Regions from separate parts of the Homo sapiens genome. Here region 2 is linked to region 1. The links come from fine-mapping of genetic effects on gene expression. A gene starts in region 1. The other region holds a variant in brackets. All regions are shown on one strand. Distances are between the middles of the regions.

Region 1 (4,396 bases):
CCACCATGCGAAGCACCAGGTTGTCGCTCAGCGAGCCGTCTCTGTCATCATGCTGGTAGACCACCTGGCCGGCTGCCAGCTCAGCCACTGTAAAGCTCTTGGGAGCAGAGCTGCCACTGGAAGCACCCAGAATGACAAGGTGACCATGCCGGAGCCCAGCCACCACCTCTAGCCGCACTGCTTCTAGGTCATCCTCATCGCTGATGACCAAGTTTTGCGGACCACTGCCTGCAGGGCCTGTGAGGGGCCGAGACTGACCCTCATAGAGAATAAGACCGGTATTCCGGGTGACCACCGGAGCCATTGTGTTCATGGGCTTCACCACTACCATGAAGGCAAAAGGGTCTGAAGCTGCTCCTTCTAGATCCACTACCTCCAATTCCAGTTCAAAGAGGCGCTCCTGGTCAGAGTCTTCAGAAGGGGGCTGGTAGGCAATCTTCAGGAGCCGCAGATCCCTCTGAGTGAAGGAGGAAAGGGGCAGGCTGCGATCATCGGTGCTCACCAAGTAGCCCTGGCCAGGCTGGAATGGAGAAGTAAGGTTGAAGATCAACAGGTCAGAGGGAGACTCAGCATCCTCGGCTGCCAGCATGTCTGGGGTCAGGGCCGTCAGTACAAACTGGTCCACCTCCATCATCATCATGGCCACGAAACTGGGCTTGGGTGCAGTGTTCTCGGCCCCTCCTCGGATCCTCACCAGAACCTGGAAGTGCTCGCGTTTCAAAGCAGGGCTGCCCACAGGAGCCCCTCGTGAACGCAGCTCCACCACCATGGGTATCCAGTCCCTGTTTGGTGAGCGACTGGCGGCTGTGTGGCGATAGCGCACGCCTAGTTCCTGGAAAGCTTTGCAGTCCATCAGGAGAGTCTCCGGGGCGCCTCCCTCTCTGGCTCCTCCAGGGACCTGCGGGTAGTGGAGGAGTTCTCCATAGCGAGGCAGCGCGCCCAAGCCGGACAGGATGCCCACGCGGCACTCCTCTGTCTCGGGCTGGAAGGCGAACTCCAGGCTCCGCGCGTCCAGGGCATTGCTGGTCCCCAGCAGCTCTTCCACGACCAGAGGCAAGTTCCGAGTCACAACCTCCAGCTGGGTGAAGACCACCTCCACCTCCAGTACCAGTGGTAGCACTACTGCCCCTCCGGGCGCGTCATAGCGCAGCTGCAGCCGGACGCGGTCCCGAGACGGGCTGCGCGCGCCCAGGTGAGAGTAGCGCACCTCGCCAGGGCCAAAGTCGCACGGGAAGCGCTTGGGACTCAGGCGGCCCGGTCGCTGGGCCAGTGCGTCGTTGTCTAGTACCGAAACCGCGCAGCGGTCCCCGGGCTGCACCTGCAACACCAGGTCATGCAGGGGATCCAGCCAGACTTCACGGCCGAAAGGCACCCGGAGTCCGCGGTTCGCCAGCACTATGGCCTCCTCAGCAGGGACCCCTGCAGCCCCCGCGAGACCAGGGGACAGCAACGCCCTGCCGAAGGCAGCGGGCTGTGCCGGGACGCGGCTTACCAGTGACAGGAGAAGCAGCAGCAGCAGCAGCAGCCGGGGCGGCGGTGGCGGTCCTGGTTGAAAGCTGGTGGAGTTGCCTGTCCGGCGCGAGGATAACCCGGGAGTCCCGGCTGAGTGCATGGTCCCGGTGTTCGGGCTTGGACAGGTCAGCCTGAGAGCATGCGAAGTCGGTCCCCGGGCAGACAACAAGAGACACCGCCGGGAAGTGCCAGGAACTCCGCGCGTTGCCCGCGGGGTCCTCCTGTAGCCGGGGCTGGGCCAGAAGGATGGCAAAGTTGCGCGGCGCCGTCCGGGCTGGAGCCGCAGCCGAGGAGCCGAAGCCTTCCCAGGCCGTCCAGCTCCGCCGCTAGCGCCTCAATCGCGCGGAGAATTGAATCCCTCCACTTCTACTTTCCAGGTCCCCGGACCCTGGGCTTTGAGGGAAATCCCTCCGCTCGCACCCCTTACTCCAGTCCTCCCAGGTGGCCAATCGTTGGTCGGGGGAGGAGGTGCGGAGCTGAGGGTTGGGTAGTAATTTCTGCCAATCAGCTCTTAGAGGCCAAGGCGGGGAAACTGCGGGGAGGGGAGGAGATAGAGGCGCAACAGGTTGTCCTGGAAGTGAGGGAAGAAGTGGCCAGGAGTTGCCCACCCCTGCTTGCGCTACTCTCTGGGCTGCTATTAATAGATCTGGTACTCCTGCAGAGGAGCCGGAACACACTGCTGTGCTGGGTTCACTTCATCTGCCGGCGACCGAGGGTTACCCATTTTAGCCACCCCCACCCCTCCGCCCTAGTCAATGAAATCCCGCGCAGGGCATGGCCATTTCCCAAGGAAACTTGCAAACCCAGGGGAAAGTTAGACGCAATGCTTTTTGAGTTTGAAGCGAAACCCAGAGCGTTTGAGAAGAAATTCTGGGGCATATTTGCAAAAGGACAGCTGGAATTAAAAGCCATAGCTAGAGCAGGTTGCACTCCAGCCCAGCCCCCTTCGGCGCGCCCAGACGCTGCCTTCTCCTCGTGAATTACAATGGGCACAGTCCTCCGATTGGTGAGTTTTTAACAAGCCCCTCCTTTGCAACCGAGGTTCACAGAGTAAAAGGGAAAAAGGGCATTTGGAATGCGTGAGAAATGCAGTCTGATCAGAATTGCTAGTCTTGCACCAAAGAATAAATTCTAGGGAATGTGGCCCCAGGCGCTCCCAAATCCGACTCTGTTAGGGTAGCTGTCATTAGAGACGTTCCTGTTCTCTTCGCAGTAATTAGACCAAGCACAAACTAAATCTACTTGTCAGCATCACATTTCTTTGCATGCCACGAAAATTGATAAATATCCGGAGGGCACACTAAAATAGTTTAGCTCTCATTTCAGCCAACAGGTTTTGAAGTCAGAGCTTGAGCTCTTCCTGCCCCCTTGTGTTTGTTTGGTTTTAGTAGTGTGTAGATTCCCTTTCTAAAAGGTTTTTTTATCAACTCTCCTCCCCCCCTCAAAAAAGATCCCTTGTAATTTAAACTTAATCATTTTCGGATTGGCTCCTAAGCAATCATAGTCAGAATGTTTTATTTAGGATAATATTTTTTTTCTCCAGTAATGCAAATCTGATTGCTAACAGGAGCATAGAATTGGAGTAATAGTCATAATTAGCCATAATTGCCCTTTTCCTGCTCCAAGGGATTTTGAATTTGGAAAAGAGGGAAATATAAGAAATTGTTAATGTCTTTTTACATTTCAGTCTAAATTGAAGCTAGAAGGTGCCTATGGGAGTAATTTCAGTAAGAAGTGCCTATCCTTTTAAGCCTTTGTGTTTTCAGCTTGAGCTCCTCCAGACCAGGATTTTGATCCTTGCTTGACACAGTTACAGCTATTTTCCAGGCTGCAGCACAAACTCTGTACATAAGTATGGCTGGGAGATGCCAGATTCCTTTCCATGAAACCTACTGAGTGGTGTCCGTTTCCAGGAATCATAGACAGGAAGTTCTAAAATCTTTCAAAAAGAAGCAAGAGATCAATTTAAAGGAGTCACTCATCCAAGCAAGTGTGCAAGCACGCAAACAAGTAACATTTAGTTAATTAAATATTAATTAAGATTATTCTGTGTGCTGTGCATTGTTTGAGGAGCTTTTAACTACAACTTAGAAACTGATGGATACATTTCACAATTTATTACAAAATGGGCATCCAGGAGCATAGAAGGGATGTGGCCCTTACTTTAAATACATTAGAAAATCCCCCATCTAACTCTTTACCAATTTCCTATTTGCTTTGTCATTATTATTTTATAATTTATATGATTATTTATTATCGCATACAGAATTCAAAATGCGGAACATGGGGGGAAATTCTGCTATTTCCTGTTCCAAATTAAAACAAATAAGATGCCAAGTAAACTAGAAAACCAATTTCAGAATATGGCTCTTTTTATAGTAAATTTCAAATTCTGGTTGTGTGTTTGTATTGAAAAATGTCATCTGGAAGCAAAGTGGCCTTATCCAGGCATTGTGACCCTGGGTAAATTCTGAGCAGAACCAGACTAACAGCTTGACCCTTGATGCTTCTTAGTGGCTCCAGGGTTTTCCTTTCCTCCTTTTAAAGTCCAACTCTGTTTGACTTGCAAGCAATGATAAGATCAGCATTTGAAGTATGGTAGTATGCCTCAAGGGCAGAGTTCAATATTTTGTTTCATGGTAAGAAAAATACAGGACCACATTTATTTTTACATAGCCTAAGGAAATCAATAAACTATAATCTTTTTGACTTTTTAATTTTGTCTGCCTTGATCGAAGTGATAGAATGATTTTTAGAGATTATTATTATTTTTTGGTAAATGTCTTAGTTATTTGTCTTGTAAATCAAATAGAAGGTAACTCAAACTATCATTTGGCTAAATATATTTTACATTGATGATCATTGACAAAACAATGAGATGTCA
Region 2 (4,396 bases), 63 kb before region 1:
TGGTGGAGACAGACAGAGACAGGGACAAAGAGAGGATGGAGTATTACAGCATCAATGTCATACACTTGTTTTTCACATTTTCTTTTCATTTATTTCAGATTAGTTTTGCGAAGCTAGCTTTGCTGCTTAGCGTGTAGTATTATTTAATTAGTTGAACCCTTTGGTGATTGCTCTGATCCCTTTAGAATTGTGCCAGAGCCACAAAAGCAGCCCTTCTCATTAATTTCACTATCTCAGATTAATATAAAAGCTGTTCATTTTGTATATTTGGCTGCCAAAAGGAAAACACACACACACACACACACACACACACACACAGAGTAAGTACAAAAACAAGTTGGTGTGGTCTTAGAGCTCCAGTCCTTGTTAGAAAAAAAAAAAAGTTAGACAATGTACAGTTTTATTTAATTGATATTTTGGAACGAGGTCCATGAAAAGCACATATGTTAGGAAGTATAAAGTTGGTTTACATATAGTCCTTTCTGTGAAATGTAGACTCTAGTAAGGAGGGTAAACCAAATACTATACATACATTATAATACAAAATCTAAGGTGAAAAGCTAACAGAAATCTCCTGGGGCTCAGAGGAGGGAGGGGAGCACATTGGGTTGGAAAGACCATTAAAGGCTTGGCACAAGGGTCTGTGGATGGAGGATGGGCCCCTCCCAGAGGAAGGAACTGCAAGAAAACCGATTCAGGGAAGGACAAGTGCAGCATGTGTGTGGGCAGCAATAAGAGTCAAGCTCTGTAGGGTTTGTGAAAGGAAAAGGGGAGGAGGAGATAAGCTGGAAAACCAGGCTGCTCACAAAGGAAACTTGGGGCATAGAGAGACATAATTTGCACCACGCTTTAAGAAATATTGATTTGGAGACAGCAGGTGTTGGCAAGGATGTGGAGAAAAGGGAATTGCTGTACACTGTTGATGTGAATGTAAATTGGTACAGCCCTTATGAAAAACAATACAGAAGTTCCTCAAAAAAAAAAAAAAAAGAACTGTCATATGATCCAGCAATCCCACTTCTGAGTATATATTCAAAGAATATTAAATCAGGATATTGAAGGAATATCTGCATTCCCATGTTCACTGTAGCGTTATTTACAATGGCTGAGACATGGAATCAACCTCAGTGCTTATCCATGGATGAAAAAAACAAAAAACAAAACTGTGGTAGAATTGTTGGTGGAAATGTAAAGTGTAGTGCAGCCACTACAGAAAACAGCATGGCTTTGGGAGGCCAAGGCAGGCAGATCACCTAAGGTCATGAGTTCAAGACCAGCCTGGCCAATATGGCAAAATCCCATCTCTACTAAAAAGTACAAAAATCAGTTGGGTGTGGTGGTGGGTGCCTGTAATACCAGCTACTTGGGAGGCTGAGCAGGAGAACCGCTTGAACCCCAGAGGCAGAGGTTGTAGTGAGCTGACATTGTGCCACTGCACTCTAGCCTAGGCAACAGAGTGAGACTTCGTCTCAAAAAAAAAAAAGAAGAAAACAGCATGGCTAAAAACAGAACTACCATATGACCCAGTTATCCCACTGCTAGGTATATACCCAAAAGAAAGGAAATCAGTGTACTGAAGAGATATCTGCACTCCCAAGTCTACTGCAGCAGTATTCACAATAGCCAATATATGGAATCAATTTAAGTATTCATCAATGGATGAATGGATAAAGAAAATGTGTTCTATATACATAGTAGAGTATCATTCAACCATAAAAAAAATGAACTCTTGCCATTTGCAGCAATATGGTTGGTACTGGAAGTCGTTATACTAAGTAAAATAAGCTAGGCACAGAAAAACACAAAACACATGGATCTCACTCATAGGTAAGTCTCACTCCCGTTTTAAAAACCATCGGATCTCGTGAGACCCATTCATTATCACAAGAACAGCAAGGGAAAGACCGGCCCTCATGATTCAGTTACCTCCTACCAGGTCCCTCCCACAACACGTGGGAATTATGGAAGCTACAAGATGAGGTTTGGGTGGGGACACAGAGCCAAACCATATCAGAGGTACTCAAAGAGTCCATTCATTTTGATTAGTAAAAATAAATGACGAATAAATTTCTTGGAGGAGTTTTGGTCCTAAGCAACTATTTAGCCAAAATCCAAATGCATACTACATACAGGTAAAAGTTAGGCCCTACCCCTTTCCTTCTCTCTCTTTCAACTTAGGAAGAAAATGAGGATCAGTGTGACAAAATTTTTCTCCTAGGCCAAGAT[A/G]AACTATGTTTTGCTGCACTTGGTTAATATAAAATGCAGGTGGCATTTTTGAATATGTGGAGGATTTGAGACAATGATTACTGCAGAGAATTCATACTAATTGCATGCATAAACTTTTTAAAGAGCAGACTTGGAAAGTGAATACATTGACTTTACAATTAATAATAAGGTCTAAACCAGTAGTTCTTGGAGAAGGGGCAATAATTTTGCCCTTTGGGGAATGTTTGGCGATGTCTGGAGATAGTTTTGGCTGTCACAAGTTGGGGAGGGGGTGAAGGGCAAGGCAGGGGGTGTTACTGACATCTAATGGGTAGGGGCCAGGGAGCTACAGATCCCACAAGGCACAGGACAGTCAGACCCTCCCACCCAACACACACACAAAGCATTAGAATTATCTGGCCCCAAATGTCAATAGCACTGGGGTTGAGAAACCGTGGTCTGTACTTGTTATATTGTGATATATCAACATTTATAACCTAACATGAACATATGATCTGACTTTTCTTGGTAATTCATGTTTTCTTATAAATTGAATTGTGAATATATATGATGAAATGATAAAACTGCCTCCTCTTCTTACATAAATATGCAGAACTTTTCAAGTCCATCATTGATGTGGAAAAGTTTCCTGTAGGAAGTGTTTATTCTCTTGTTGCAGAAAGTAGTTGAGCCAGTAATTTTCCTACTGTCAACATTTATGGCTAATCCTTTCGGAAGTTAGAGGTGAGGAAGGATCTTGAGAAATGCACCAAACTGTGTCAAAGTTTGATACTGTATGCATGATTTAGATTTCAGTATGAAATCAAATATGTGGGTGATGATTTCCATGTTAGATGTTTTAAGCAGATTAGGCTTCACCAACCCATGTTAGAGCCGAGAACACAAAATAGAAAGGCTTCCTAAGGTCACTGCAGATAGACAAGACTGGGCACTGAACACAAGTTATCCAGACTCCCATGTCTTTATTGTAGCCCAAAAGAGAAATACTACATGTTCCAATGCACATGTGCTTGTCAGTACACACACATGTACCTGCACACACATGCATGCACAGCCTTACCTTTGTTCTTACAAAGAACAAAAATGCCTTCCTTTCCAAAAACATAGAGCTCACAGCATCCTTTACATGTTTTTCCGTTGAACAATTTGGGAAAGCACTTCCCAAAATAATTTTTTTGAATCTTATTTTTCCTGGTAGTTAATAGGTATTACATTTTAAAAAAAATCACTCTATGTTAACTAAGGGAAAAATAAGCTGTATTAAGCTATGTAAACAACATTCTTACCTGCAGTAATTCCTAGGGTCTTTAATATGTGAATATGCACTGAGGAAGTCTAAGGAAGGGATTGGAGCACACAGCATTTCTCAATCTCATTTCAGCAGGGAACCTGTGTCTTAAGGCATCATGTTAAGACTCTGATCTACAGCGCATAATTTGGGACAAGTTGCCTTTGAGTACAAACCATCCAAAACACAGATATGAGCAGAGAGCCTGTGCAGTATCAATCACATGCAGGTCACATAATTTTCGTTTGTCATATTTGACACTAATAGTTAGAACTGCACATCATAATCTTGAGGAACAAATCCAAATACAATTTAAAAACTTCTTCCCTACCAGCAATACAAATTCTGGTTCATGTCATTTCCATTTCCTAATCCAAATGGCAAAATAAATATGTTAGTTTGTAGAATGCCAAGAAAAATATAAGTTCAGGTAAACACAACTGACTACTGGTATATTCGTTCCACAGACAGACCACATTTACTGTTGGAACACACGCTTTGCTTTTTTTGCAACTTAACTATATAATGCCCCAGCCCTTTTTTTTAATTAGTCAAATGCGGGATCAGATCTCAGAAGAGACAAAGGTTAGGATTTTGGCCAGTTCCAAAAAACACAGCTAAAATCACCAACAATGTACAACGAGCTATGTCGGCCTCCTGTTTTCAGTTGGATCTTAGTCCCTGTGGATATTTGAACCTTACGATCTGCCCAGCTCTGATAAGGGATTTAAAGGCTTACTAAGAAGAATGCTTCTGAAGCTATTAAAACTACCAGTATGGGAAGCATGGACTAAGCTGGGTTTTGGAAAAAGGATAATGCTGCAACATAAACTTTAAGGCTGATAAACAGATACAAATTCTGAAAGCACATTGTTTCCTAGT

Which allele goes with the higher level. Positions count from the first base shown, and alleles are read on the strand shown. Sizes are in standard deviations (SD) of each study's normalised expression.
For the expression in amygdala of the gene that starts at base 1,880 in region 1, A is the high allele of the variant in region 2 and G is the other (moderate effect, 0.60 SD a copy in GTEx).

The links. PIP is the estimated chance that this variant, and not a neighbour inherited with it, causes the effect. A credible set is the group of variants that fine-mapping cannot tell apart.
Region 2: its variant is the best candidate, but not a certain one, in a credible set for the expression of FREM2 in amygdala (GTEx, PIP 0.89).

The regions. Positions count from the first base shown.
Region 1 is chr13:38,684,561-38,688,956 of GRCh38, reverse strand. It overlaps FREM2 (FRAS1 related extracellular matrix 2), which reads right to left and starts at 1,880. Exons shown (of 24, transcript NM_207361.6): 1 at 1-1,880. The coding sequence starts at 1,612. LINC00437 (long intergenic non-protein coding RNA 437) reads left to right here and starts at 2,282. Exons shown (of 3, transcript NR_126377.1): 1 at 2,282-2,518.
Region 2 is chr13:38,747,787-38,752,182 of GRCh38, reverse strand. The region is part of intron 2 of FREM2 (FRAS1 related extracellular matrix 2); the gene reads right to left. Among named protein-coding and RNA genes, the nearest start is that of FREM2, 63 kb to the right of the region's middle. The variant A/G (reference allele first, on the strand shown) is at 2,227.